4 linked regions of the Homo sapiens genome follow. The protein of the gene in region 1 purifies or fractionates together with the protein of each later gene. This does not show direct contact. Each region holds a gene or a part of one and is shown in the gene's direction. Other genes may lie near its edges. The genes, in order: PPA2, LYRM7, ACSF2 and ACSS1.

Region 1 (7,031 bases):
TGAAGAAGAATTTGCCTATTTAAGTTCTGGAAAATTCGGATGTAACTTCTCCAAAAACTGAACCACAGAGTACTTATTTCTCAGAACATTTGTTAACATCTTAGTGACATCAGGGTTATGATTTCTGCAACTTCCAGAAGCAACTGTGCTGTAACAGTTCTAAACTAATAGTCAAACCACTTAAGTTGTAGTCCTGACTTTACCGTCTTGGACAAGTCACTCGACTGAATTAACCAGAGGCATCCCTTACCTTCAGATGACATCCGGTAGCTCAGTTTCTCCGTAAATAAAATGGGGATAGCACTAGTAATTTTATAGAATTGCTGTGGCAGTTAAATGAGACTATGTGTGTAATTATCAGTGTCTCACACGTGATAGGTATTTAATAAATGTTATTTATTTTTCCCTTTTGACTTTAAGACATTAGACTAAAATCCTTATTATTAGATTCTGTGAAGGGAGAAAATAAGGTGATGTGATTGATTATTTTGAAGTGTTCCTGTTAATTTATAGGTTTCAGAAGGTTTTTTGTTGTTGTTGTTTATTCATTTTATTTTTATTTTTTTGGTTTGTTTGTTTGTTTAGAGATGGGGTCTCATACTTTTGCCCAAGCTGGAGCACAGTGTGCAATCACGACTCACAGCAGCCTTGACTTCCCCAGCTCAAGCGATCCTCTCACCTCTGTCTCCTGGGTAGCTGGGACTACAGGCATGCACCACTGTGCCCGGCTTCCTAGGTCTTAAAGTTTTAATGGGTACTTGCAGTCTTTTAAATTAACTGTGAAATCATAATGAAGTTAGACTCACTTATATTGAGCCAAAGACCTAATGCTGCATGCCAGTATTCCTTTGATATCTTGCGTGTTTTTGTTTGTTTTGTTTCGTTAATAACTTGAAATTTTATTTTAGATTTCATACTGTTCTCATAGGATAGGGAAAAGCTATGCTTTCCATAATTAGGAATTTTGTTATTATGGGATAGGCAACTGGTTTACTTAGAGAAATAGTGCTGTGGATAATTCAAGTTGCTTTTATTTAGTCTGGGAATGAACCAAGCAGTTCTTTAAAATTAATTTGCTTTGTCACTTATAGTAAGCATGTGCTTGTGTTGAAATTACTGTAGGTTTTCTTTATGTCATTTGGGTAGTAGGAGGAATCTGCCATTGAAAGTGCTGTATCTTTGGACTTAAAAGAGAACTTCCCGTGAATAATCCACAAAATTTGTTTGAGTCTTAAATATGAGTTTCTGTAACTTTTTAAAGTTGGCCTATATCATAGAACTTCAACTGATATAATGGAACACAATGGGTTTTGTGTGAATATAGAAAAAGTATTTTATTTGATTTTTCAGTCCTTAAAACCTTAAACGTTTTCTATATCAGTGCTGTGAAATAGGAATTGTGTGATCTATATGGAACAGAGGAAGCATTTTTATTGAAGTTTTTAGGCTCCTTTACATTTCTTAATCTTTTTATCAGAAAATAAAACAAAGTTAGCTTTAGTCATTGCTGAAGCTTCCAGTAAGAATCTCTATAAGTGGTTTTGTAGTCGTGTGTAATCATATGTTGGTATATGGCATACATTTAGCTGTCTGGTATAGATACATAAAATTAGGTATGGTTTTCACATTCCATTCAATTTTCTCACTTGCTCTAGTGTAAGTAATAAACTTTCATCCTGATACAACTTGCTCTTGTGAGAGAAAGAATCACATAGATAACTTAGAAAATGCTAGAATAAAATCTGATTTCAGACCAGTTGAAGGGAGAATTTTGACCACTGTTTGGCAATATCGTGTAGATTGATGGGCCTGATAGAGGTTAGCAATTAATGCCTAAGGACACAATCTGATTTTTGACGACAGTGAAATACCATGGCAAAAATGACACAGTGACTACAATCATTTATCTCTTTTCCCCTATAATAAATATCCTATTAAAGTGATAGTAAGTGAGGATAAGAAAGGGTAACCCTAAAACAACAGATAAGGAGCCACCAAAGCTTGAGATTTTGAAATATGTATAAAAGATTAAAAAACCAATGGAGATATGGTTATTAATGAAGCAGTGTGGAAGAAGTCCCAGCTTAAGTATATGTGTTCAGGGGACGTAGTTTAGGGAAAAGCCGAGCTGCTGCAGAACCTCAGAGAGGTTGTGGGTGTGTTGATATAAGATAGGATAGAGAGTTAGATGGATGTAGAACTTAACACAGGGGGATTAGTTTAAGTTGTACTACAAATAGTACACAAATGTTTCCCATGCAGGTCTAATGCATGAGGGTTGTGTTAGTTCCAACTGTAAAAGTGAATGAAGAGCTGAGAGGGAAGTAGGACCCCTGATGGTGTTGGTGCCCCAGCAGTACTCTGCATGCTGGTATTTGGGGACCCCAGCATAACAGCCAGCCTCCTACCCATTCATCTCTGTGGGAACACAGAGTTCCCAGTGATTTTTTCTAGTCTTTTTAATATAAACCAAATAGTCAAGGATCACCTAACTTAGGCTTTCATCGCTACTGTTCTACCAACTGCTTTTTGTCAGGGCTACCTGTCACCTCCATGCTGCGACCTTAATGGTCAGTTTGAAGTCCTCATATGACCTATCAGCAGTACTTTTTACAGTTCATCACTTTCTCTTTGAAACACTTTTTTTGTCTTTCCCAGAGGAAACTGCTTTCCTCTGGGATGCACTTTGTCTTAGTTTTGATGCTTCTCCTTCACATTCTCCCTTGCTGAACCTTTGTCATATTTCCGAACTCTAGCCTTTGAAATGCCCAGGGCTCAATCCTCAGCCCACTTCTCTATCTATACTGCCTCTCTAGGGCAGGTGTTGGCAAAGTTTTCTGTAAAGGGCCGGATAAGGAATACTTTAGGTTTTGCGAACCATTCAGTCTCTGTCACAACTACTCAGCTCTGCCATTGTAACATACAGCCATGGACAGTAAAAGTATGACTGTGGTTATGTTCCAATAAAACTATATTTACAAAAATAAAACCAGGCCATGTGACAGATTTGGCCCATAAAGCCAGAGTTTGCTGACCATTGCTGTTGCTCTGGGTGATCCCATCAGGTCCCATAGTGTTAGACGCTGTTTATGATTCCCCAATTTATAACATTAGCCGCATCTCTTCTTGAACTCAGAATTTACACATCCAGCTTTCTACTCTGTATTTCTACCTAAATGTTTAAGATACAACTCAAGATTAACAGCACAAAACAGAACTCCTGACTCCCCACCCTCACCGAACTTGTTTCTCTCTTTAGTTGCTAACCCATAACCTGGGCATTCTTCTTGTCACCTTTTACTCTTATCCCACAGCTAACTCATTAGCATATTTTTTTGAAATGTACCAAAAGACAATTCCTTCTGTCCACTTCCACCCTTCTCACTTTCTGTTTCACCATCATCTTTCCCTTGATCAGTTGTAACCTCCTGATTCTTCACCCTGCTTCCACCCTTAGCCCTGTATAGTCTACTTTCCATACAGCAATCACCTTCATCCTTTTAAAATGTAAGTCAGATAATGTACAAGCTCTGCTGAAAATGCCAGTGGCTTTCCATTTCACTCAAAAAATTTTTTGAAATATGTACCATAGCATGTAAGGTCCTACTGGATCTAATACTGGGCTCCTCTCTGAATTCATTGCTTGCCACTTTTCCTTTTGATCAGTGTCCTCCTGCCATCCTGGCCTCCTTGCTGTTTCTCAGACATGCCATGTATGTTCTTTCCTCTGCACACCTGTGCTTTTTATGCCTTCAGTGCTCCTCCCTAGAGGTCTACTTGATCTCTTCCCTCACTTCATTCAGATCTGTGCTGAACTGTTACCCACCAGAGAGATCTTCCCTGACCATTCAATATCAAATATTACTCCTTCTGTTACAGTAGGTAGCTAGTCAGGCATGAGCAGGGCAGAAGAGGGCTCCCCTCCCTCAACACACACCAGGAATGACAGGCAAACATCAGGTGATGGTCAGGCAGTTGTTAACTGTTTCTCTAAAATATTAATTGGTTGCAGCCTGCACCAGGGAAAGGCAGTCTCCAAATAAACAGAAGCACCTGAAGCTGGTGATCAGCAGCTTCCCATGAGATCTCAGGAACTGGGTGAGTGGGCTCAAGCGTTTGCACTAAGAGGCAAAATGGCAGAGTTTGGTATGTGACCTCCTAGGGACATTCGACTGGTAAGGGAAGAACACCTCAAGTGAACACGCGTACAACTCCAGTAAACACGTTGCACATGGTCCCTTTCCCAAGTGCTGGGAGGCTACTGTGTGTGCAGACAGCCTGCCCCAAGGGAAGAATCAGGGGAGATGGGACACAAGATCCTGGAAGTATGCTAACATATAAAACCCCAAGTTGAAAGGTCAAACCGTGCATTTGTCTTTTCAAGTTGCCCACTTTGCCCTCTTCCAAGTGTACCTTCCTTCCCTTTGTTCCTGCTCTAAAGCCTTTTATTATAATAAACTGATTCCATCTGTAAAATTGCCTCAGCCTCTCCTTCTGCCTTCTGCCCCTCAGTTGAATTCTTTCTTCTGAGGAGGCAAGAATTGAGATTGTTGCAGAGCCATAGGGATTTGCCATTGGTAACGCTTCCATTATTCATTCTTCACTTTCCCTAATTTGTTTTCCTTTATCTTTATAGTGCTTATGATATGTGATAGAATAAACACATAATCATTGCTTCTGCACCCCAACTAGAATGTGATTTCCATAGGAACAGGGAATTGGAATTTGTATCTAGTATCTAGAACCATGCTTAGTACAGTGCATATATTCAAGAAATATTTACTGAATGAATTTAAGGAAAACTTAAAAATTAAATGGGAAAAACAAGAAACTTGAATTTTAGAAGGTCAAGTGGGTGTTCTCTATTACATCTGCTATAAAAAAAAGGAAGAGTTGGCTGTGAAGAAATGGCAATCAAGACCAAGACCTCTTTAGCAAATAACTTGTTAAAACAAGTAAGTCAGTAGAAGGTGTAGTGGGTTGAATGGTGTTCTGAGACACGAAGTTTGTGGTAGTTTCTTGCAGCAGTCCTAAGAAAAAGAATATAGATGAATTAGAAGATAAGGTAAATCTATCAGAAAGTAGAACAAAATGTCAGAGATAGAAAAAGGAGGCAAGAAGAAGTGACGTAGAGATTGAATCCAGAAAGTCCAACATTTGACTCATATGGGTTTCAGAAGGAAAGAACAGACAAAATGGAGAAGAAATTGTAAAAGGGATAATAGAAAAAAATCTAAGAATTGAAGGACCCAAGTTTTCTGACCCCCCCAGTCACATTATTATACAGCTATTGAGAGGATCCCACATGTCTTGCTGGGGGGTGGTCAGCTAACAGGCCTGCAACACTGAATGCTCGAAGACTGGAGTAATGCCTTTGAAATTCTGAGAGAAAAGAGTTTTCCTCCTAGAATTTTCTACCCAGCCAGCTGTCAATCTGGAGTGAGAACAGAGTAAAGACATTTTAGACATTTAACAACTTGAGAAATTGGCCTCACATGCAATCCTTCTTACAGAACACTTATTAGGGATATGCTTCTGCAAGACAAGTAAACCAAAAAAACGTGAATGCATGGGATCCAGAAAATGATAGATCTACACTGGAGAGCAAAGAAGCAGTCTTAGGATGCCCGGAAAGCATCCAGTTCATATTGCAGCCTGAGGATAGAGGGTTCCTGAAGGAGCTGTTTGGGTAAAGAGAGGATTCCATAATTTTGATGATATCCGTGAGGCATTGGAATAACTTATAGACGTGATTATGACAATGTAAGAAAGATAATTAGAAACACGAAGAAAAATAGAAGCTGAACCAAAAAAGGAAATTTAATTATAGCAGCATCCTCACCAAAAATAAACACATAGACAACGCTTCTCACACACCTGAGTGTAAGAATTATTTGGGATGTTTGCTAAAAATACAGATATTCATTTCTCCCTCCTTGAGATTTTGATTCACTAGATGTGGGATGGTGGTTCAGGGATCTGCATTTTAATGAGCATTCCAGGTTTTTCTTATCTAAGAGAAATTTTTGATATATATAATAGGAAATGCATAGAAAATTCAGTATGATTACAGAACATTCTATCAGCCTTGATATGAAAAAATAAATATGCAGAAGACAAAAATTAGAAGAATGAGGAAAGGGAGGTAAAAGTCAGGTTATTGATGTTAAGAAATACTGTATATTTGTATTAGTTTGTTTTCATGCAGCTGATAAAGACATACCTGAGACTGGGTGATTTACAAAAGAAAGAGGTTTATTGGACTTACAGTTCCACATGGCTGGGGAGGCCTCACAATCATGGCCGAAGGTGAAGGGCATGTATCATATGGTGGCAGACAAGAGAGCTAGTGCAGGGAAACTCCCCCGTATATAATCATCAGATCTCATGAGATTTACTCACTGTCACAAGAACAAGACTTGCCCCCATGATTCAATTATCTCCCACCAGGATTCCTCCCACAACATGTGGGAATTCAAGATGAGATTTGGGTGGGGACACAGCCAAACCATATCATTCTGCCCCTGGCCCCTCTCAAATCTCATGTCCTCACATTTCAAAACCAACATGCCTTCCCAACAGTCCCCCAAAGTCTTAACTCATTTCAACATTAACTCAGAAGTCCGCAGTCCACAGTCTCATCTGAGACAAGGCAAGTCCCTTCTACCTATGAGCCTGTAAAATCAAAAGCAAGTTAGTTACTTCTTAGATACAATGGGGGCACAGGTATTGGGTAAATAAAACATTCCAAATGGGAGAAATTGGCCAAAACAAAGGGGCTACAGGCCCCATACAAGTCCAGAATCCAGCAGAGCAGTCAAATATTAAAGCTCCAAATGATCTCCTTTGATTCCATGTGTCTCACACCCAGGTCACGCCGATGCAAGAGGTGGGTTCCTGTGGTCTTGGGCAGCTCTGCCCCTGTGGCTTTGCAGGGTATAGTCCCCCTCCTTGCTGCTTTCATGGGCTGGATTGAATGTCTGTGGCTTTTCTGGGTGCATGGTGGAAGCTATTGGTGGATCTACCATTTT
Region 2 (7,031 bases), on another chromosome or scaffold:
GTCCACTTCCTGGTGATATGAGTTAGGCAAAATAAAATTGGCCGGGATCGCTGGCTCACACCTGTTATCCCGGCACTTTGGGAGGCTGAGGTGGGCAGATCACCTGAGGTCAGGAGTTTGAGACCAGCCCCCTGGCCAACATGGTGAAACCCCGTCTCTACTGAAAAATATAAAAATTAGCCAGGCATGGTGGTGGGCGCCTGTAATCCCAGCTACTCGGGAGGCTGAGGCAGGAGAATTGCTTGAACATGGGAGGCAGAGGTTGCAGTGAGCCGAGATCACAGCCACTGCACTCCAGCCTGGGCGACAGACAGAGCAAGGTTCTGTCTCAAAAAATAATAATAATGATAAATAAAATTGAAAAAGAGGTTGAATGCAGATTAAGCTAGCCCACAAAGCAGAGATAGAAAAAAGTATTACTTTGCTAAAAGGCACAATTCTGTCTACAGCCTAGAGTCTAATTGATTAAGAGTCCCATAATTTAGAGCCTTGGAGAGTTAAAAATGCTAATTGTTCTTATCCACTAAAACTAAAGCCAGTACAAGCAGGGAAATTCTGAGCTGTAACATGAAATAAGATCGATGCCTCAAGACTTTCTCATTCTTCCAGACAAAGATTAGATATATGATTCATTTACTGACTGGAACTTACTATTCTTCATTGCTTTAAGAAGTGGCCCCTAAGGTAAGGGTTAAGGAGATGGGCAGAACGTAGAGGCTGCTACCAAAGGATGACAGTCTTCATCCTTATTTTTCTGTGGCTACTTGTGCATGGAAATGACTGGAAACCAATTTGAAGCTTATAAAGTTTTTGAGTGAATTGTATTGCCAAGAAACTCCAGGCCTGGCTAGCTCTTTTCACCTCTTAAGGCCACCCCTGGGCCCCTAAACTCCTATCACCAGGAAGTAGACTATGAAAGCTTTTAAAGCCCCAAAGAAGGGCATCTTCCCCAGTATCTCCACCTTAGAACAATGAGGCTCAGCAGGACCTAATGGAAACACTAGCACTGTAACCAAACATCCTTGATTTCAGTCTAGATGAGACCTGAGGGGACAGGTAGTGAGTGGATGTATGCTACAGATGGAAAGAAGGATTTATATGCATTTTGCATAGCCAAAGGGGTTGTGCTTGTTGCCTCTCCAGTATCTATTCTCCTGTTCTTTTTTTTTTTTTTTTTTGGAGATAGAGTGTCCTTCTGTCGCTCAGGCTGGAGTGCAGTGGCACGATCTTGGCTCACTGCAACCTCAGCCTCCCGGGTTCAAGCGATTCTCATGCCTCACACCTCCTGAATAGCTGGGACTACCGCTCGGGCAATCCAACCACCTCGGCCTCCTAAAGTACTAGGAGTATAGGTGTGAACCACCGTGCTTGGCTTCTCCTGTTCTTTTTTACTAACTGAGAAATTGTGTTCAGGGTGCAATGTACCAAGCAAAAAAAAAGTTATTTTCCAGACCATGTGACACCTTTCTGGTCTATATAAACCGTGTCTATTCGGTGTTACTTCCAAGAAAGTCATTGTTTTCCTGTTTAAAAGGAGCAGGCTGAGCTGGCACTCTCCTTTTGCCCTTTTCTCTCTTCTTCCCATCTGGAGTGCAGATGTGATATGACAAGCAGCAGTGAAGACAAAACCACTCATGGAAGGTAGCAGAACAGGAAGAGAGAAAGAGCCTGGGTCCTTAGTATCACTAAGGACAAGCACTAGCCCAGAACTGCCTTAATCTGTATTTCTTTTTTTTTTTTTCCGAGATGGAGTCTAGCTCTGTCGCCCAGGCTGAAGTACAGTGGCACGATCTCGGCTCACTGCAACCTCTGCCTTTGGGTTCAAGCGATTCTCCTGCCTCAGCCTCCCTGGTAGCTGGTGCCTGCCACCACGCCCAGCTAATTTTTGTATTTTTAGTAGAGACAGGGTTTCACTGTGTTGGCCAGGCTGGTCTCGAACTCCTGACTTTGTGATCCGCCCACCTCGGCCTCCCAAAGTGCTGTGATTACAAGCATGAGCCACCATGCCTGTCCTTTAATCTGTATTTATTGATAATGTGAGAAAAATTAAATCTCTTACTTATTTAAACCAGCTTTTGGACTTTGGTTATTCAGAACTGAACATACTCTAAAGTGATATGGGTATATTTAACCATTTATTTTTCCATTCTCCCATAAAAGTCTTGTTCCACTTTTGTAACACATGACATTATACTATAATTTGTTGTTTATCTAGCTATCTTTTCCATTAGATTGTGAGTTTCTGGAAGCTGAAGAGACTATTATATATTCACCTTCATATCTTAATTTCTTGATGTAATGTCTAGCATGAAATAGGCACATATAGGTTTGATAAGTGAAACAAATTATTGCCATTGTTAACAAGTTAAAATGCACACTACAATTTATTCTCTGATGAAATCTCCATAGGTTTGGTAAAAGCAAGTGAGATATAAACAATGGTTAAATAATACTTATTTAACTGGTTTTCATTTCAGTAAGCCAAATTTATCATCTGGCTAATAAGAGCACTATTCTTAGTCAGACCAGTTCTTTCTTAATTAAGTGAAATATTCAGTTTGCCTTTTGGGTTGAATTTGTTTTAGTGTTGTCTTCTGTCTTTTTTTTTTTTTTTTTTTTTTGAGAGAGAGAGTCTGTCTCCCAGGCTGGAGTGCAGTAGCATAATTATTGCTCACTGTAATCTCAAACTCCTGGGCTCAAGCAATCCTCCTGCCTCAGCCTCTTGAGTAGCTAGGAATACAGGTGTGCACCACCATGCCTAGCTAATTTTTAAACAATTTTTTGTAGAGACAGAGTCTCGCTGTGTTTCCCAAGCTGGTCTCAAACTCCTGGCCTCAAGCAATCTTCCCACCTCAGCTTCCCAAAGTGCCAGAATTACAGGCATGAGCCGCTGCATCTGGCCACTGTGTGTGTGTGTGTGTGTGTGTGTGTGTGTGTGTGTGTAAATATATATATTTTTAAAACCTTTTTATTTTGAAATAATTCAGATTTACAAAAAAAGTGCAAAAGTTGAAGGGTATGAGAATTTCCTTTACCCAGATTCTACAAATGCTAACATTTTACCATATTTGCCTTATTGTGTTTCCCTCATTTTTTTTTCCTGAACTTTCTGAGAGTAAGTTGCAGACATAATGCCTATTTACCCCAAATGAACATTTTTAGAATTATGACAGCCCATTTGGGTCTAGATCTCCTGGAGAAATACCTTAGAGTATATTTTTTTAAGATACTTCAGTGTGTATTTCCTAAATATACAAGGACATTCTCTAATGTAACTGCAATATAATGACCAAAACCAGGGTATTAATATTGATGCAATGCTATCATTTAATCTTTCCATTTGTCCTAATAATGTATTTTATGGCAAAAGGAAAAAAAATTCCCTGTGGACCAGTATCCTATTGGGGATCACACATTGCATGTAGTCATCATGTCTCTTTAGGTATCCTTAATCTAGAGCAGTCCTTCAGTCTTTCTTCGTCTTTCATGTCCATGATGTTTTGAAAAGTATAGGCAGGTTATTTTGTAGAAGGTCGTGCAAGCATTTTTTGATTGATAGCTCATCTAGGTTCAGCTCTTCTGGAGAAAAGAAGAAGAAATCAATGTATCTCCTCAAAAATTTGGAATTTTTTTTTTTTGAGGTGGACTGCCACTGTGTCCCCCAGGCTGGAGTGCAGTGGCACCATCTCGGCTCACTCACTGCAACCTCCGCCTCCCATGTTCAAGCGATTCTTGTGCCTCATTCTCCTGAGTAGCTGGGATTACAGGCATGCACCACCACACCCAGCTGATTTTTTTTTTTTTTTTCAGTAGAGATGGGGTTTCACCATGTTAGTCAGGCTAGTTTCCAACTCTAGACCTCAAATGATCATCCCTCCTTAGCCTCCCAAAGTTCTAGGATTACAGCCGTGAGTCACCACACCCGGCCAAAAATTTGTATCTTAAGAGCTTTATCTTAACTCCAGCAAGATGTCTTACCTAGGACTCAACAGGTTTTTGTTGTTGTTTTATGATATTTCTCAATGTGGGCACTATTGGCATTTTTGACAGGACAGTTCTTCACTATGCCAGACTGTTCCACCCATTACAGAAGGTTTAGCATCCCTGGCTCCTGCCCACTAAATTCCAGTAGCATTCTCCAGTTGATATGACCACACAAAACACCCTCTTTTAAGAACAATTGTTATTTAAAATTTAGAATCTTTAAATTAGGAGACCAGTCTTGCTTTTCATATAGTAGATAGTATAAGCAAAATTTCCAGTTGTTTTCATTATCAGTAATTGGTAATTAAATGACCAATAATAGAAGTTTTAGCTGAATTCTCTTCAGTTATTTGATTTGCTATATTTAATGATAAAGGGTTAAGTGGATCATATATGTTTTTATATAATCTGAAATGAGAATGCTATTAATTCTAATTAGAGTCAAGGATGCCACCTTAGATATCAACTGAAATAAAATATCCCTGGAAGATTTATCTTAAAACTGGATATTTTACTATTTTAAATTTTAGGGGGAAATGAGTGTCCTTGCATTTAATTCTAATTTTAGTGATGTTAATTATTCTCTTTTTTTTTTTTCTTTCAGAACTGGTCCCTAGGAAAGACCTTCTTGTAGAAAATGTGCCATATTGTGATGCACCAACTCAGAAGCAATGAGTTTTCTAGAATACAACAAGTCTTTGTACTTTTTAACTTTAAAATCTACAACTCTGGCAAAAGTCCTGGAAATGCAGACATTTTCCCTGAACTGGCATATTGAAAATGAATGAATTACAGAATAGCTTCATATTTAAATTTCATGTTAAAAGGTCATTACTGAGAACTAAAGAACATAATTAAGTATTTCTAAAGGAAATTAGATAAGAAAACATTTCATTTTCATTGAAAATCAAATTTCATAAAGCAAAGTAAATGCTTAGGGAGATATATTCAATCTTTGACCTTGATGAGTATTTGATCTTACCATAGCTATTTGAGAATGTGGTGCTTTTACAAATTGGTGAGTTTTCCTGCCATGTGAAATGCAATTATTACATTTAAATTGTTAGATTAAAATGATATTTAGTCCTGAAAAATATTAAATTGGTCAAAAAAATCACAGTGTATGCCAGCTCTCTACAGAAAGTGGCCTTTGTTTTCTAAAGCACTGGGATTATTTCTGTAGCTAATATATAATTGTACAGTTTCTTTTTAGAGATAGAGAGTATCTCTGTGTTCTTATGAAGACATTTTTTATCAGTTTTCTGAAAATAGATGAATAAAATATTATAGTCACCTAGGGTCACTATGGAATAAAGAAATCCTAGTTTAAAGAGGAAATAGTGGCCCTTGATCAAACTATTTAATATGGCCTTAGTAGAATTAGCTGTATTTAGACAAAGTTAGACTTTAGTGTGAAATGTAATCGGTGGCTACATTCTCATCGTTTTAATTAATGAAACTTAAATGGCTTCTCTTCTTCCACATGTCCTGTCCTTGACAAGATGGGCAGTATCACAAAAGGTCCTGGCATTCTACCATCTAACACTAGGAACTGTAAAATACTGTTTAATATTCTTCTTGTTTCTCTTTTATCTGTGTATCTTTGCCATTCTATTTTCTCAGTGAATAGTATGTTTTCTCCCATTCACTGATAAATTCTCTCATTTGATGATGATACAGGGTTTTTAATTTTTGCAAGATTCTCAATGCAAGCATTGTTATGTATCTAGAAATTATACCTAGAGAAAAATGAAAGTCGTTTCAAATTTGAAATTTGCCCTTTTAAGAGAATGCTGAATGTCATCGCAGTATATAATCACTATATAAATGTGCTGACTTACAGTTATTTTAGTGTCTATATGACATATTTTGAGGAAAGTTGGCTGACGTTATTTAAATTTAATATATATTCTATATTTTAGTGTTATTGAATATTTTATCACTGAGCTTTTTTCTTTAACCTGAATTCCCTGTTCCATTTTTCATTCATATTAATTTAAATAACTCCAGATTTCTTTCTTATAGTCATTATTAGTAGCAGATGAGATTAATAATTCACATGTTTATTAAAGATAGTGGCTTAGAAATTTTAAGATATATTGATATAGGCCCGGGCGCTGTGGCTCACACCTGTAATCCCGCACTTTGGGAGGCTGAGGCGGGCAGATCACAAGGTCAGGAGTTCGAGACCAGCCTGGCCAATGTGGTGAAACCCCATCTCTACTAAAAACACAAAAATTAGCCAGGTATGGTGGCGGGCGCCTGTAGTCCCAGCTACTCGGGAGGCTGAGGCAGGAAAATCACTTGAACCCGGGAGGTGGAGGTTGCAGTGAACTGAGATTGTGCCACTGCACTCCAGCCTGGGGGACAGAGTGAGACTCTGTCTCAAAAAAAAAAAAGAAAAAAAAAGGAAAAAGGAAAAAAAAAAGATATATTGATACAGATAGGTAGATATGATATTGTACTTTCATGCCATAAGACTACACAATAAAGTTCCTGAAAGTTCCTGGCTGGGCGCAGTGGCTCACGCCTGTAATCCCAGCACTTTGGGAGGCCGAGGCAGGCAGATCACCTGAGGTCAGGAGTTCTAGACCAGCCTGACCAACATGGGGAAACCCTGTCTCTACTAAAAAAAATACAGAATTAGCCAGGTGTGGTGGCACATGTCTGTAATCCCAGCTACTCGGGAGACTGAGGCAGGAGAATTGCTTGAACCCAGGAGACGGAGGTTGCAGTGAGCCGAGATCGCACCATTGCACTCCAGCCTAGGCAACAAGAGTGAAACTCCGTCTCAAAAATAAATAAATAAATAAAGTTCCTGTGAAGTATATAAACATGTCAACAACAGGCTTGACTGTCACAAAATTCTGAAAGATGTCGCACTCTATTCTTATATAGCATATGCTAATTTATTTATTTATTTTTTGAGATTGAGTTCTGCTGTGTCACCCAGGTTGGAGTGCAGTGGCATGGTCATGGTCCACTAAAGCCTTGACCCCTGGGGCTCAGCAGTTATGCCAACTAAGCCTCCCAAATAGCTGAGACTA
Region 3 (7,789 bases), on another chromosome or scaffold:
AGTTCAAGGCTGCAGTGAGCTATGATTGCCCTACTGCACCACTCCAGCTCCAGCCCAAGTGAGAGTGAGACAGTCTCTTAAAAAAAAAAAAAAAAAAAAAGATAACTAAAAGATAATTTGACTCTACACAGCAGTTCAAATCAAGTTCCTTATTTTCACTTTCAGTTTGAGAGTTTGAGAATGAGAAACATCCGTGTTTAGAACAATTTTTATTAGCCTTTTTTTTTATATTGGCTACTGGATCTAATTGGCTTGATTAGCAGAATATACACATTCTGTTCCAAGTCATTTCAATATCTTTGAAAATTGAAACTTCCTTCCTCAACTTCCTCTCCCCTTTTCTTTCTGTGGCTGCCAGCGGTCTCTCTTTTTTTTCCACCTCTCCTTCATGATCACTGCATTTCTTATTAGACAGCTCAGTTCTCAAACACACAGTGAAGGAAATTCTTTAAAAGGGCCATTTTTTATTTACTACTTGGAGACAGTCAATTACAACAGAGAGCTATGAAAAATTACACCAGAGAAAAGGGATTTGCTCAAGGTCATTGACAGAAAAAGCACTAGGGCTGGATTCTTTCCAGATCTGACACTGAAGTTGATTCCAAGCCTAAGTAACCTCTTTGCACTCATTTTTTTTACAGTGAAAACCTCATCAAACACATTAGTTCCTGTAACTGATTGAAGCCTCCCTCAGGCATGTTAATAAAAAATTTTATTAAGAGAAATAATATACACCATCTTAGAAAATAATATAAGAAAACAGCTTTTTTTTTTTTTTTTTTTTTTTCCGAGACTGAGTCTTGCTCTGTCGCCCAGGCTGGAGTGCAATGGTGCCACCTTGGCTCACTGCAAGCTCTGCCTCCCGGGTTCACGCCATTCCCCTGCCTCAGCCTCCTGGGTAGCTGGGACTACAGGCGCCCGCCACCACGCCTGGCTAATTTTTTATATTTTTAGTAGAGACAGGGTTTCACTGTGTTAGCCAGGATGGTCTAGATCTCCTGACCTCATGATCCGCCTGACTCGGCCTCCCAAAGTGCTGGGATTACAGGTGTGAGCCACCGCACCAGGCCAAAAAGAGCTTTTTTAACAAAAGCCTGTTCTCTGCCCTCACTCTTCCTCCCACTGCTATGCCCCAAAGAAAAGCTTTTTTAAAAGTTGTGGAAAAATAGACATAAATAAAATATATCATTTTAGCCATTTTTAAGGTTATGGTTCAGTGGCATTAAGTATATTCACATTGGTATACAACCATTACCACCATTCATCTCCAAAAACCTTTCACCTTCCTAAACTGAAACTCTATACCCATTAAACAAATAATAACTCCCCATTCCCCCACCACACCCCCAACCCCTGGCAACCACCATTCCACTTTGTCTCTAAGAATTTGACTACTCTAGGTGTCGCATATGAATGGAATCATACAGTATTTATTCTTTTGTGTTTGGCTTATTTCACTTAGCACAATGTGTTCAAAGTTCATGTGGACTGTAGCATGTGTGGGAATTTCCTTCCTTTTTTGAAAGCTGAATAGTATTCCATTGTATGGATCTACTGCATTTGTTTATCCATTCAATCATTGATGAATATTTGGGTTGTGTCTGTCTTTTGGCTATTGGGAACAATTCTGTTGTGAACATTGGTACACAAATGTTTGTTGGAGTCCCGACTTTCAATTATTTTGGGTATATACCCAGAAGTAGAATTGCTGGATCATATAACTCATTTTTAATTTTTTGAGGAAGCACCATACCATCCACTGTGGTGGCCCCATTTTACATTCCCACCACCCAATGCACACGTGTCCAGTCTCTCCACAACCCCACCAATACTTGTTATTTTCTGTTTTTTTGCGGGTGTTCTTTTTTTTTTTTTGAGACAGGGTCTTGCTCTGTCACCCAGGCAGGAGTGCAGTGGTGTGATCTCAGCTCACCGCAGCCTCAAACTCTTGGGGTCAATATATACATACATACATACATATATATATTTATTTGGTGAAATATCTATTTAAGTCCAAAGAGAATCATTTGAACTATTGTAACGATTTCTGATTTATCTTCTTCTGCTACTTGCCTCTAAATGACATACTTATTTTGCCAGTTTTAGATTTTCTGTTTGATAAATGGGTACTTGCACCCCATCTCTCCTCCCTAAGTGCTGGTACTATAGTTTTATTATTATTTTTGTACATAATGACATACCCTTTTTTTTTATTTTATACTCTCCCCCACCCCTTCCCTCTCAACTACTATCAGATGTAACTTCCAAAGTTAGTGATACTTACATTTACATTCTATTCTGTAACTGTGACTAGGTCTTCTGTAGGTTGATGTTATGAAAGAAAAAAAATCAATAAATGGTGTTTACATTTTGAGCCTGCTTTTGAAGCACAGAAGCAAGACATGGGCAAAGGGGCGGGAATAAGGGCTTTCTCATGGTAGCCAATGGCATGAGCCAAATTACAGGGACCATAAATCATGCAAGTCACATGCAGCATAAAGGAGATGTGATGGCTCAGGCAGAAGGCCCCTTGGGGAGCAACGGGGAATTTAATTGGTTAAAGGGAAGGGAAGGGAAGCTGGAGAGCCTGGATGGCCCACTGCCCTGCTCCCCACTTCCTTATACTAGCCAAAGAATGCGGGTCAACGTGATTCCCCCACCATGACTCACGGACTTCCACCAGCCGTCTTGACTTTCTCCCAGCCCTCCTCCCCATCCACAGAACCAGTGCCTACCAGGGCTTTGCACAAATAAAACAATTCTCCCTCCTAAAAAAGGTTTGCAATTCCTACACAGAGGAAGGTCTTAGAGTGAAGACACAAGAGGAAGGAGAGGATGGAAAAAGAAACAATCACTGAAAACTGGCCGACTACCAGTTCTGTGCCACCTACTCAATTCTTACCCAGCCCTCTGCGTGAAGTTGGTATTATTATCCCCATTTGACAGATAACGAGGCTGGAGAGGCCCCGTGACTTGCCCAAAGCCACAAAGAGACTACTGGCAGAGCTTTGGCCTATGTTTAAGAAGCTGAACCTCTTTGGGATTCAGTTTCTTCATCCATAAAAACAAAGACACATTCCAAGCCATGCCTGTTCCTTGCAGGGTGTTTGTGAGGGTCAGAGAAAATGTCCTTGAAGAGCCTGGCATGTACAAGATACCCTGAAACTGATGGCTATGATGCCACGGCCTGTGCACCTAGGAAGAGTCAGGAAAGCCCAGTGTCTTGAAAAGCCGAGGCTGGAGCAAAGTTCAAGGAGGAACTCACTTCTCTCCCACTCTAGGACTGACCCTCAAACTAGCCAGAAGAGTGGAAGGACCTACAAGATCAGTACCCACCCCACACTTCATAGGCCAAGAGAGGGACAGTGGTTTACCCAGGGTCACCCAGCATGCTAGAGGCTAAGCCTGCCAGCCACGGCTGGGAACCCAGACTTGTGAATGCCCCAGCCCTCCACATTCCCTGGTCCGCTATCAAAGACAGTTAGTCTAATTAGGAAAGCACACCCTTGCAGGCCCAGCCTCCGGTGATCTCTTTGTTCCTCTGTCTCTTCCTGCCCCAACCCCACAGAAACTGAAGTGTGGGGACCCTCCCTAGGAACCGGGGTTCCAGGGAGGATTTGAGGTCACGCTCAAGATCATAAAGAGGCCCAGCATGGACTCCTTCTCATGACCCAAGTGGAGCCAGAGTTCCCAGATAAGGGCAAAGGTCACCTCAGGCCAGGCTCCACTCTCAGCCACCCCTTCTGCCTGGCAGGGTTTACTTCATCTCCTCCAGTCAGGAGAGGGGAGGTCACACTGCCAGGGCCTTTGCCCCATTCTTCTCCAGCTCCTTCTCTAGAGGAAGAGTCATGGCTAGGCCGAGGCAGTGTGGACCTGGAACAGGTATAAACTGTGCTACTCTTTGGTGCCCAGTGCCACTTTTCCTAGCCAGGACCAGAGCTATCACCTTCTCTGTCCCGCAGCTCTGCCCAGGTCTTAGTACCCCACTCACCCCTGGGCCTCAGGAACCCTAAGGAGGGGCATAGGGTTGCTTTCCATTCACACCTGGGGCAGCACAGGGAACTGTGCCACAGGCCCCAAGACAGGCAGATGGAGGATGAAATACACAGGTCCCAGTCCCTGAGGCCACCTTACGTGTCCGGCCCCCAACCCTGTGCAGAAGGTCAAGGCAGAGGCGCCGAGGAGGGATGGGAGGATGCCTCCTGTGAGATGGGGTACAACTGGTGTTCCTTCTGAAGCTGACATCTGGCCTCAGCTGGGACTCTGGCGCCAGCGGGCCCGCAGGGGGCTCACCCGCGACACCCTTTGTTCTGGCTGCCTCCCCAACCCCGCGGGGCCCTCTGCTCCAGCTGGCATGCCTCAAGGACGCTTCGCGCCTGCTCCTTTGGCCCCCGGCTCGCAAGTAGCGGGGCCAGCACGTGACCCGAGGGGGCAGGGGATGGATGGATCTTGACCTTGCCATCTGGCCCCTCACGGATGTGCTGCTGGCTCTCCCTCTAGGAAATCAACAAATTTTTGCGCTTCTAACATCCAGGCCCCTGAGGATGGTCGCGAGGAAGATCTGTTTCGGACTGCAGCTGGGGCCTTCGGATCCAGAGGAAACCAGGGCTATTCTTCGAGGGTGGGAGGGGGAGGGCCGCGGGGTCGGAGGGGAAGGTGGCCCCGCGCGAAGTCGCCGCCGCCGCGCCCCGCCCCGCCCCGCCGGCGGAGACCGAATCCGCCGCACCCCATAGGCAGAGGCCACCCTCCCCGCCTCCCCGCCCGCTGCGCGCCCGCCCCGCCCCGGCTCACTTTAAAAGTTTACTCGGGCCGGGACGCAGGGCAAAGCGAGCCATGGCTGTCTACGTCGGGATGCTGCGCCTGGGGAGGCTGTGCGCCGGGAGCTCGGGGGTGCTGGGGGCCCGGGCCGCCCTCTCTCGGAGTTGGCAGGAAGCCAGGTTGCAGGGTGTCCGCTTCCTCAGGTACTGGCCCCCCGCGGGAAGAGAGGGGGCGGGGCAGTTCCCCGGGAGAGGAACTTGGAGGTCCCGGCGAGCTTCGGAAGCCCCACCTCTGGACGAGTGCACTGGGGGGAAGGTACCCGCCCCTCCCCCGCCCCCCGCCAGCACCTAGGCAATAGGAAAAGCTGGCTTGGCCTGGTGGACTTGGGTGGGGAGGGGGCTTTGGTTGGTGGCTGCAGTGACTTCGAGTTCTGGTCCAAGACTCTCGATTCCTTCTCCTTTATGGGCACAGAGGGCAAGGAGTGTGGGCTTTAAGGAGAATATTCCGATGGGGAGGGGCAAGGGCCAAGGCCTGGGCTGTACCCCCAGGACACTGCCTCTGAGTTGGAACCCCTTCATGGGCAAACTTGGGGATCAGCCCCAGTCTCCCCGACCCAGGCCACTAAACTTAGCAGTCTCCTGTCTCCTCATCAGCTGCTCACTAACATGGCTTTAATTCTTTGCTGCCTACTCCTGGGCCTATTTCCTTCTGTCCTCAGTGCAAGGGGTGGGATGGAAGCTGGCAGGCAGAGGATTTCAGTTCCCAGTAGCTTCACTGCCTCTGCAGCAGCACAGTAAGTAAAGCTGCCTTCCCGGTGTGACCAGTCCTTGGGAGGACCCCGTGAGATGGCAAATGTGAAAGTGCTTGAGACACAGAGAGCAGGCTGCCACTCATGTTATCAGGGCTGTTAGCTTCAGCAGCACCACTGGGGAGCCCTGTGCACTACTGAGCCTGTCCTACCACTCAACTCGGCCAGATACTAAGTCTATGGTCAGGACAGCACTTTCAGCAACATCAGATGGGGTGTGGGCCTGGACATGGAAAAGGGAGAAGTCAGAACAAAGCTGTGTCTCAGAGAACTAGATTTGTTTTTGTTTTTAAAAAGGCTAAGTAGGAAGAGTTGGAGGGACATGCAGACTCCTTTTTGGCTAGAACTCCAAGATCACACTTTCTGAACTTGCTGATTTCTGAATGCTAGAAAGCATGCAATGCCTTAACATCACTCTGCCTAATTTGCTGAGAAAACTAAGTGGATCAAGGCTGGTCAGTAGATGGGATTGAGATGAGGACAGTGGGGTCCTCTTCCCAGTGACCCTGGGAAGTCACTCACTACTTCCCAGGGTCTCCCTAGACAAGTTCGGCCCTCCCCTGACCCCCTAGTCTCTTAAGCCTCTCCTCTGGACTCATGGCTGCCCCCTCAGGCTGGGAGGACTCTGAGGAAAGTTACTTCCCAAAGTGTACATATTTTATCACACTAAATCAGGCCACAGGGGAAGTCTCTCAGCCTACTCTGGCTCAGGAGGCTGCCCAATAGAAAACAAACAAACAAACCAATAAATAAGTAATAAATCAGGCCACATGGCAACATTTCTGACCTTTGACTTTTTTTTATCTATAAACAAAACAGGTCACTTACCTGCTACAGCCCTGGGACCTCTGAGAGCACCAAGCTTCAGAGAAATTCTTATTGCTGTGTCAGGAGGAGACTCATTTATCCAGACAGATGATTTTCTGAGTGTTTGGCCTACTTTCTTTCTGCCCCTTCCACTCCCTTGTGCCTGCACCCTTATTGTCTGACTGTGATGGTTTTACCTGATTTCTCTCCTACTTTCCCCTTCAGAAGCCTCAGGGCTCAGGCCAGGCAAGGTGGTTTATGCCTGTAATCTCAGCACTTTGGAAAGCAGAGGTGGTAGGATCACTTGAGCCCAGGAGTTCAAGGCTGCATTGAGCCGTCATCATGCCACTGCACTCTAGCCTGAGCAGCAGAGCAAAACCTAGACTCAAAAAATAAAAATAAAGGCTGGGTGGGTGGCTCATGCCTGTAATCCCAGCACTTTGGGAAGCCCAGGCAGGCAGATCACTTGAAGTCAGGAGACCGGTTTGGCCAACATGGTGAAACCCCGTTTCTACTAAAAATACAAAAATCAGCCGGGCGTGGTGGCATGTGCCTGTAATACCAGCTACTAGGGTGTCTGAGGCAGGAGAATTGCTCCAACCTGGGAGGCGGTGGTTGTAGTGAGCCAAGACTGCACCTCTGCACTCCAGCCTGGGTGACAGAGGGAGACTCCATGTCAAAAATAAATAAATAAAAATAAAGGCCAAGCATGGTGGCTTATGCCTGTAATCCCAGCACTTTGGGAGGCTGAGGTGGGCGGATCACTTGAGGTCAGGAGTTAGATCAGACTGGCCAACATGGAGAAACCCCATCTCTACTAAAAATATAAAATTAGCCTGGCGTGGTGGCACATGCCTGTAATCCCAGCTACTTGGGAGGCTGAGGCAGGAGAATTACTTGAACCTGGGAAGCGGAGGTTGCACTGAGCTGAGATTGCACCACTGCACTCCAGTCTGGGTGACAGAGAAAGACTTCATCTCAAAAAAATAAAAATAAAAATGAAAAAAGAAGCCTCAGGGCTGAAACCATCAGCAAACATTCCTGAGAACAGATTCTGCGTCATGCTAGCACATGCTGTGCATATAGAGGCCACAGAACTCAGTCCTCACCCTGCCAGGAACTTGCAGCCTCGTAGGAGGAGAAATAAATCAAGGTGAGCACTATTCGGTGTTGCAAGTGCCATGGTGAGGAATGCGCTTGGACTTTCGTCCTCTGTTTTCTCCGATCTGCTCACACACAGCCTGCTTTCCTGTTGCCCAACACCCAGGCCTATTACTTACCAGACCCTGGTTTTGCCTGAGAGAAAAGAGCAAGGGCTTTGAAGTTAGACTATCCTGGATGACAGCCCTGGGTCCTCTCCCTGTTGGTTGTATGACCTCGGGCATGTTATCTAACCTCTGAGCTAGTTAGTTCATT
Region 4 (7,320 bases), on another chromosome or scaffold:
CGAAGGCCGTGTTGGTGGGCTCTGTCCCTAAAGCTGTTAAATTAAGATGCTCTGGACGCTATGGCTCTGCTACCTACTAGCTGGTGGCCTCGGGTGAGCTTCTGTCCTCCTGCTTATTTTCACACATGTACAGCAAGGGCAAGAGCATTCACTGCTGCAGGTTGTAGGGTCAGTAGTCACAGCTGTGTTGGCATTTCTGGCCTAAACATTAGTACCGAGACAGAAGCGAATCCCGGATTCCCAAGAACCCTGCCCTCTAAGCACTTCGTGTGTCTGCAGCCCCTGCCTGACAGCATCCAGCGTTCCAAGTGAGCTCTCCTGAAGTTGAGGCCAGCGGCTTCTTAGGGAGAAGATGTGACCAGCACTGCCCAGATAGCCTGCTGCCCTGTCCAAACCTCTGAGGGTCCTTCGGGATGCAGGGCCAAGAGTGGGTGCTCCTTGTGCTTGTTCAATCTTGTGCTTGTTCTGCAAGAGTTGATGACTGGCTGCCAGGAGGGAGGCAGTGGGGACGACCTTGGCCTGGGCTGTGACACTCAGAAGGAAGGTCTCAAGGCCACCTCTAGGTAACTCGGGCAGCAAGAAGTGCAGTTCTGCACCACCTGGTTGGTTCTGACATGTTTGGTTCTGAAATGATCACTTCTTCTTATCCAACCAGAAGGAACGAGGTAGCATTTATTTTAAAACAGAGTTAGTTCTACCTACTTTTCTCATTGCAACTGTAGAAGACCTTAGAAACGAAGGTAGTAGGAAGAAGGAGCCATTGCCGTGCACTCTCCATGGGGTGGCTGTTGGTGCCAGGCCCAGTCACAAGCAGCATAGCTGGTCTCTTCTCTCACAGGGCTCCCTCCTGGTAGGAGGACTAGGAAGATAAACACAGAGCTAATAAGTAACAGCCATGGAGAAAAGTCAAGTCAGGGGTTGAGACTAGGGAATGAGGGCGGAGGTATAACTTTATGTAGGTGACAGGGAAGAAAGGGCTCTTGGATGAAGGGATGTTTGAAGACACCTGAAGGAGGTGAGGGGGAGTCTCTGTGGACAACTGGGTGGAGCATTCCAGGCAGAAGGGACATCGTGTGGCAGTCCTGAGGTGGGAGCCTGCTGGGTGATGGGAAGGACAGGAGGAGGCTGATGTGCTGGAGCCCCAATGAGTGAGAGCAGAGGAAGAGGGTACACTGGATCAGGGAGGGCAACGCTTCTCTAACGTGAATGTGCATGCAGCTCCCCTGGGGCTTAAGATGCAGATTCTGAGGCAGCAGGTCTGAGATGGAGCCTGGCATTCTGCATTTCTACAAAGTATCCAAGTGATGCTGCTGGCCCATGGACCACACGTTAAGTAGTGAGGCTATGGCCTGTGGGCCAGGGAATGATGTGGTCTTTGTTTTGAGGAGACTGGGGAGCCTTTGGATTGTTCCAAGCTCCAGAGCAAGTTCCTCTGACTCTTGTTTTAAAGGAATTGCACTGGCTGCTGGTTAGGCTGTCAGGGGCAAGGGTGAAAGCAATTTGAAGCCTACTGAATAATCCTAAAAGAGATAGGTATGGTTAGGATGGTAGCAGGAGGGGATGGTGATGGGGGAAGAGGTTAGTGCTGCAGGTGTTCTGAAGGTGAGTCACAGGATTTGCTGACAGGCTGCATGTGGAGTGTGAGGGGGAGGAATCTAGGATGACAAGGGTATGAGCCCAAACAACAGGAAAATGCCATTTCCATTCACTGACATGGAAGATCCGTGTTGTGGGGAAGAATCCCAGGACTTGGTATGTTTCAGATGTGAATGAGACATTTGAATACAGGACTGAGATGTGGAGGAAAGGTCCAGGCGGGAGGTGTCAATATGAAAGTGAGAGGCTAGAGAGCTGGCTGCTGTTTCCTAGGGGGCAGGGGAGAAAGGGGGATTTGAGGGCTGAGCTCCTGGGCACTTCAACACTTGGAAGGCAGAGAGAAGAAAGGCACCCAGTACAGGGCACTGAGAGGCAATAGTCAGTGAGTGAAAGAACCATGCATTTTTCAGCCTCAGTTGTTGTATCAGTTACCACTGCTGAGTTACAAACCATCCCAAAATTTAGTGGCTTAAATTTATTCCTTCTACAATTCTGTAAGTGGACTGGGAGGTTCCTTTGCATCCCAGGTGTTATCTGGGGTGACTCATGAGGCTGCCTTGGCTGGGACAGGAGCCTCCACATTGGCGTCATTCTTGTCTGGGAGTTGGTCCTGGCTGTGGATGGGACAGCTTCATCCTCGCCCTGGGTCCCTTCCTCTGGAAGGCCAGCCCCGCTTCCTCACAGCTCGCAGCTGGGTTCCATGGGAGGATAAGCTGGGGCTACGGGGTCTCTCAGGACCTCCACATGGAACTGTCACAGCATCCCTCCCACCAGGCTGTACTGGCCAAAGCAATCCAGCCAGCCAGGGTCCTCCTCTGGACAGAGCAGCACACCATCATGTGCAGGCGGTGCAGGCGTGGGAAGGAAGAGTTGGTGGCCGTCTTTGGGACCCCCTGCCACAGTTAGGAGCTTTCTCAGTTTACAATTTTACTACTCACTGACCTCTGCCTCTCAGTGCCCTGTACTGGGTGTCTTTAATATTCTATTCAAATGAACTTAGGCCAACGAGCTCCCCACTGGGGGCACTGGGTGTTAGTCTTGCTCTTCCCTTAGCCAGCTGCATGCTCTTTAGTAAGTCCTTTTATTTATTTGGGCTCAGTTTCCTCATTTTTTCCACCTGGAGTTTGACAGTTGGTGGGAATGGACAGCACTAGATAAGTTTCAAATTAAGTAGACTAGTCGGGTGCCGTGGCACACGCTTGTAGTTCCAGATACTCAGGAGGCCGAGTCAGGAGGATCGCTTGAGCTCAGGAGTTCCAGGCTGTAGTGAGCTGTGATGGGAACCATTGCACTCCAGCCTGGGCTACAGGCCCTATCTCTAAAAAAGTATCATAAATAAATAAAGGAGAAAATGCAGGTCAAGCGCTAGCACTGTGCAGGGCATGTGTTATGCTAGTAGATGTCACTGATTCTCCAGCTCTAGGTACACTCCTGTCTTCTCTGGCAGACAGCAGCATTCCCCAGCAGGGGCTGGTGGCTAGCCCACGCAGAGGCTCCTCCAATGGCAGGCTCCTCCCCTCTGCAAGCCCTACAGCTCAAGGGAAAGAAACTTTCCCATCACAGAGAACTCAATAAACCAGTTTTCCAAAATCTCTCTTCCCTGTGTTTACCCGTTTGTTATGAATTTACTTCTTGGGTGTCAGAATATTTAAGAACTCGGTGGAGACCAGTTTTATACGTTTCCTTCTGTCCTTCCTGGCTCCACAGCTGCAAAAACATCATCCCCACTACTGAGCTTACTATGGGGCCACGCAAGGGTAGACGCTTGACAGACATTGTCCAATGTATTCCTTACTGCAGCTGCCCACCCCCGCCGTCCCCGCCCCCCAGGGAGACATTACTTCCGTCTTCCCCAAAAGGAAAACGAGGCACCGAGAAGTTAAGGAACTTGCTCAAGGTCACAGAGTTTGAACTCAGGCTACAGATGCTGCAGCAACTGGAGAAAGTCCTCATCGCCCCATATCACCCACCACCGACCCCCAGCAGGACGTGACCCCCGCCAGGACGGAGGCCGGCAGCTGGGGGGCTGGAGCATGGGACCCAGAACACGGACTCAGGCTTGCGCAGCCTCCTGGCTTCTAGGCGGGAGCCTAGAAAGGCGCCAGCCCCTTTCGCGTGCTGCTGAGACTCCAGGGGTGGGGTTCACTCTCAGGGGCGCACAAAGGCATGAAAACCTTGGCTTCAGCCTCTGAGATGCGGAACTGACCGACCTATTGTCTTGGGACCCACCAGTGCGCTTGGGTGCACCAGCCCCCTTAACGTTGGTGCCGGCTCCCTCCCGGCTCCTCCCCATCCCAGAGGGTCCCCTCGCCCCAGGCCCTGAGCCTGCGTCCTGGGGTCCTGGGCCGCACGTGCCTCTGGCAGCTCGAAGAAGCTGTCGGGGCTTGCAGGAGAGCGTGCAAACTGAAACCAAAACAGGCCGACTCGAGGAACATCCGGGTGGGACCGCAGACTCACCGGAGCGCAGCGCCTGGGCCAGGGCCTGGGACCCTGCTCCGCCCCGCGCTCCCCTGCACCCCTTCCCCACGCTGCTCCCCTCTTCCTAAGCGGCCCCCCCTCTCCCGGGCAGCAGAAGAAGGGGTGGGACCCGGGCGGGCTCCGGGAGGGGGCCCTGGAGGAATGGATGGTGGCGGAAGGGCGGAGCAGGGGCGGGGCCCGCGGAGACTCCACGGGGCGCCCCGGGCGTGAGGCACCCACTCTGGGAGCACAGAGAGCTCAGGTAGCCTGCCTAGATGGCGGCGCGCACCCTGGGCCGCGGCGTCGGGAGGCTGCTGGGCAGCCTGCGAGGGCTCTCGGGGCAGCCCGCGCGGCCGCCGTGCGGGGTGAGCGCGCCGCGCAGGGCGGCCTCGGGACCCTCGGGCAGCGCTCCCGCAGTTGCAGCAGCAGCAGCACAGCCAGGCTCGTATCCCGCGCTGAGTGCACAGGCAGCCCGGGAGCCGGCCGCCTTCTGGGGGCCTCTGGCGCGGGACACTCTCGTGTGGGACACCCCCTACCACACCGTCTGGGACTGCGACTTCAGCACTGGCAAGATCGGCTGGTTCCTGGGAGGCCAGTTAAATGTCTCTGGTGAGTGGGCTTCGGGAGACCCAGGACGCCCCCAACTCTTGGGTCCCGAGGGGACTCGGAGCCTCTCGCCAGCGGCAGCCGTCCCCGGGCAGCGCGGATCGCAGCCCTGCAGGGGCCCCTCCTCCGGTATTCCGTCCGCCCCGCCCGCTCTAAGCAGTGGCTCCACGTCACCCCGTCCCTCATCCCATCGGGCCCCAGATCCACGTGCCCAGCTCGGGCCGGCGCCCGCGGGGACCCGGCGGCCGCTTGGGACGCCCCGCTGCTGGCCTTGCTCGGCGCGGCTCCTCGCTCGGCGGACTCCAGAGTTGCGTTACCGGGTGCATAGCGCCGCTGAGCAAGAGCCGGCGGGGAGCCGCGGGCTACACCCGAGCGCCCCGGAGTCGGGACTTTCCCGTTCCCATACCGGGGTGGAGGGAAAAACAAAGCGGTGGCGGTTGTCACTGCGGGCTGCGGTGCCCGGGGATCAGCCTGGGGACAAGCCCTGCCCACGTAAACAAACAGAGCTGTGGCGGGCGACCTGGGGAGGAGGAAACTCGGCGTGGCAGCTGGAACCAGTTATTTCTTCGCTGCGGGCCTGGGGCCTGGGGCCTGTGGACGGGAAGGAAGTAACGGCGGCCTCCCCGTTCTCGTTCTCGGCCTCAGAGAACTGCACCCCAGCGACCTGGGGCCTGCTTTGGACCCGCGGGGTCTGACGTCGGCCCCAAACAGTTGACTGGTGGTCAGTTGTTTGGAACTTGCTGAGCAGAGGCCCTGCTGCTCTGCTAAGATTTGGGGCTGGGGGTCGTACACAGCACCCTCGCCCCCACCTAAGGCGCTGACTGGGCACCGAGGGGGAGGCCCTGAACTGCAGGCAGGGCTGGCCACGCAGGGTGGGTGCCAAGTGCGAGGTGGGCTCCGGATGCAGGGTGGGCCTGGGTGTGGGGCCTGCGGGGAGGGGCTGGCAGACACGGTGTTGATCAGAGGGATGCAGACCAGAAGGGTGGTCATAACCAGCTTGCTGGATTTGGGAGTGTTTAAGAAAGGACCTGCGGGTCTTTATGGCAGGGTCACCAGGGCCCCATTTTCTCCAACTCCTCCCTCAGTTGTCCTTGTTGTTCTGCCCCCCCAGCCCTCAGTCTCCTCATTGTGAGGATGGGGGCAGTCATGCTCAGAGGTTAGGCTGAGTGCTGCAAGGTGTGCAGCAGACCCAGCGCTTACTGGTGACCCATAAGCAGTAGCGATTTTAGATAACTTCAGAAATAGTCATACAATTATAGATAGTGTCTTGCAGTTATTTTTCAAAGAAATTGGAAGGAACTTTGGACCTCCCCCACTCCCCGAAATTGTATATTACTTTGCTGGTTTAATTAAAATGAGTCACTTACTAGATAAGTGTTTTCTTTAACATTGAGTCAGCAGCAAGTGCCCTTGAACTAGTGGGAAAAAAACCAAACCCTTTGGTTTGCAGAGTTGGGGCAATGTGCCCTTGAAGGAGACTAGAGCAGCTTGCCCAAGGACAGAGGTGGAAAGTGACCTGCTCTGGACTTGTGAGGCCAAGGTCATGGGGAACATTCACAGTTGGCCTGTGCACACTTGCAGCCCCACTCAGATAAGACAGTGGGGCGGACCTCCTGGGGCCAACAGCAAGGACCTTCTGAACCTCGCTCGGTCAGGATCAGGGTGTGGTCAGCAAGCATTCTTCTGTCTCCTTTTCCTTCACTTATTTCTTCTGATAATATGGCCTTTATGGCTACGTTAGCCAGAAATTGAGCTTCAGAAAACTAACTTGAAAAACAGCTTTTCAGCAGCTTTCTCCCCTGGGATGTGCGTGCCCTCCTGTTCATGGGTCAGCAATATCTCTTTCCTTTGCCGGTGTCTGCAAACCATAGAGAAGACAGTATGAAAAAGGGCCAGGCCAGGCCATGACTCTTCTGGGAGCATCTAGAAAGTCGTGGGATGGATGAGAACACTTTGGTCTGATCTGTCAGCTGTGTGTGATAAAGTCAGATGGCTTGTTCCAAAGGAATATCACTCTTGAAGAAAGCTTCACCTCACCCCCTCAAGAATACCAGTGGTTCTCAACGCATGGTCTTCAGACCTGCAGCATCAGCATTACCTGAGAACTTTTGAGAAATACAAATTCTGGAGCCCATCCTGGACATCTGGAATCAGAAACCCTGGGATGGGACCTGACACCTGTGTTTATAACGAGCCCTTCAGATGCTCCAGAGGACACTCGGGCTTGAGAACCACTGGCCTGTACGCCTCAAACCAGGGCAGATGAAGGCACTTCTAAAACAGAATTGGGATTAGTGTCCTGGCCTTGGCCCTATTAAACAAACAGCAAGCAAATGATGGGCTGTGGATGGCGCAACACAGTTTCGTGGCTCCAGGTGTCTTTAGAATCATGACTCGGGTTGATTTCTTGCTTTCCCTGTACTGTACTTTGCATGTTTCCTCATCTGTAAAACAAGGGCCGTATGTAACTGAATTCTGTCCTAGTTACTATTGATGTACATCAAACCACCCCTAAGTTTAGTGACACAAGATAACAACAATTTTATATTCCTCGCAGAGTCTGTGAGTCAGGACTTTGGACAGGGCCCGATGGGGATGACTCATGTCAAAGGGCAAAATTAGGACAAATTTAGTTTAAAGACCTTACTTCACTTTATTCGT

Evidence for each region.
Region 2: the proteins of PPA2 (region 1) and LYRM7 purify together in Homo sapiens (affinity purification with mass spectrometry; 3 studies listed by BioGRID and IntAct, with this or other methods). This does not show direct contact.
Region 3: the proteins of PPA2 (region 1) and ACSF2 purify together in Homo sapiens (affinity purification with mass spectrometry; 2 studies listed by BioGRID and IntAct, with this or other methods). This does not show direct contact.
Region 4: the proteins of PPA2 (region 1) and ACSS1 purify together in Homo sapiens (affinity purification with mass spectrometry; 3 studies listed by BioGRID and IntAct, with this or other methods). This does not show direct contact.

Annotation. Positions count from the first base shown.
Region 1 is NC_000004.12:105,464,038-105,471,068, reverse strand, and holds part of PPA2 (inorganic pyrophosphatase 2, mitochondrial isoform 1 precursor), read left to right. Parts: intron 1-7,031.
Region 2 is NC_000005.10:131,194,943-131,201,973, forward strand, and holds part of LYRM7 (complex III assembly factor LYRM7), read left to right. Parts: intron 1-4,588; coding exon 4,589-4,659; 3' UTR 4,660-7,031.
Region 3 is NC_000017.11:50,421,429-50,429,217, forward strand, and holds the start of ACSF2 (medium-chain acyl-CoA ligase ACSF2, mitochondrial isoform 2 precursor), read left to right. Parts: upstream 1-4,789; 5' UTR 4,790-4,833; coding exon 4,834-4,961; intron 4,962-5,476; coding exon of another isoform or gene 5,477-5,551; intron 5,552-7,789. UniProt on the Homo sapiens protein: Acyl-CoA synthases catalyze the initial reaction in fatty acid metabolism, by forming a thioester with CoA. Has some preference toward medium-chain substrates. Plays a role in adipocyte differentiation.
Region 4 is NC_000020.11:25,055,111-25,062,430, reverse strand, and holds the start of ACSS1 (acetyl-coenzyme A synthetase 2-like, mitochondrial isoform 1 precursor), read left to right. Parts: upstream 1-4,291; 5' UTR 4,292-4,328; coding exon 4,329-4,662; intron 4,663-7,320. UniProt on the Homo sapiens protein: Catalyzes the synthesis of acetyl-CoA from short-chain fatty acids. Acetate is the preferred substrate. Can also utilize propionate with a much lower affinity. Provides acetyl-CoA that is utilized mainly for oxidation under ketogenic conditions.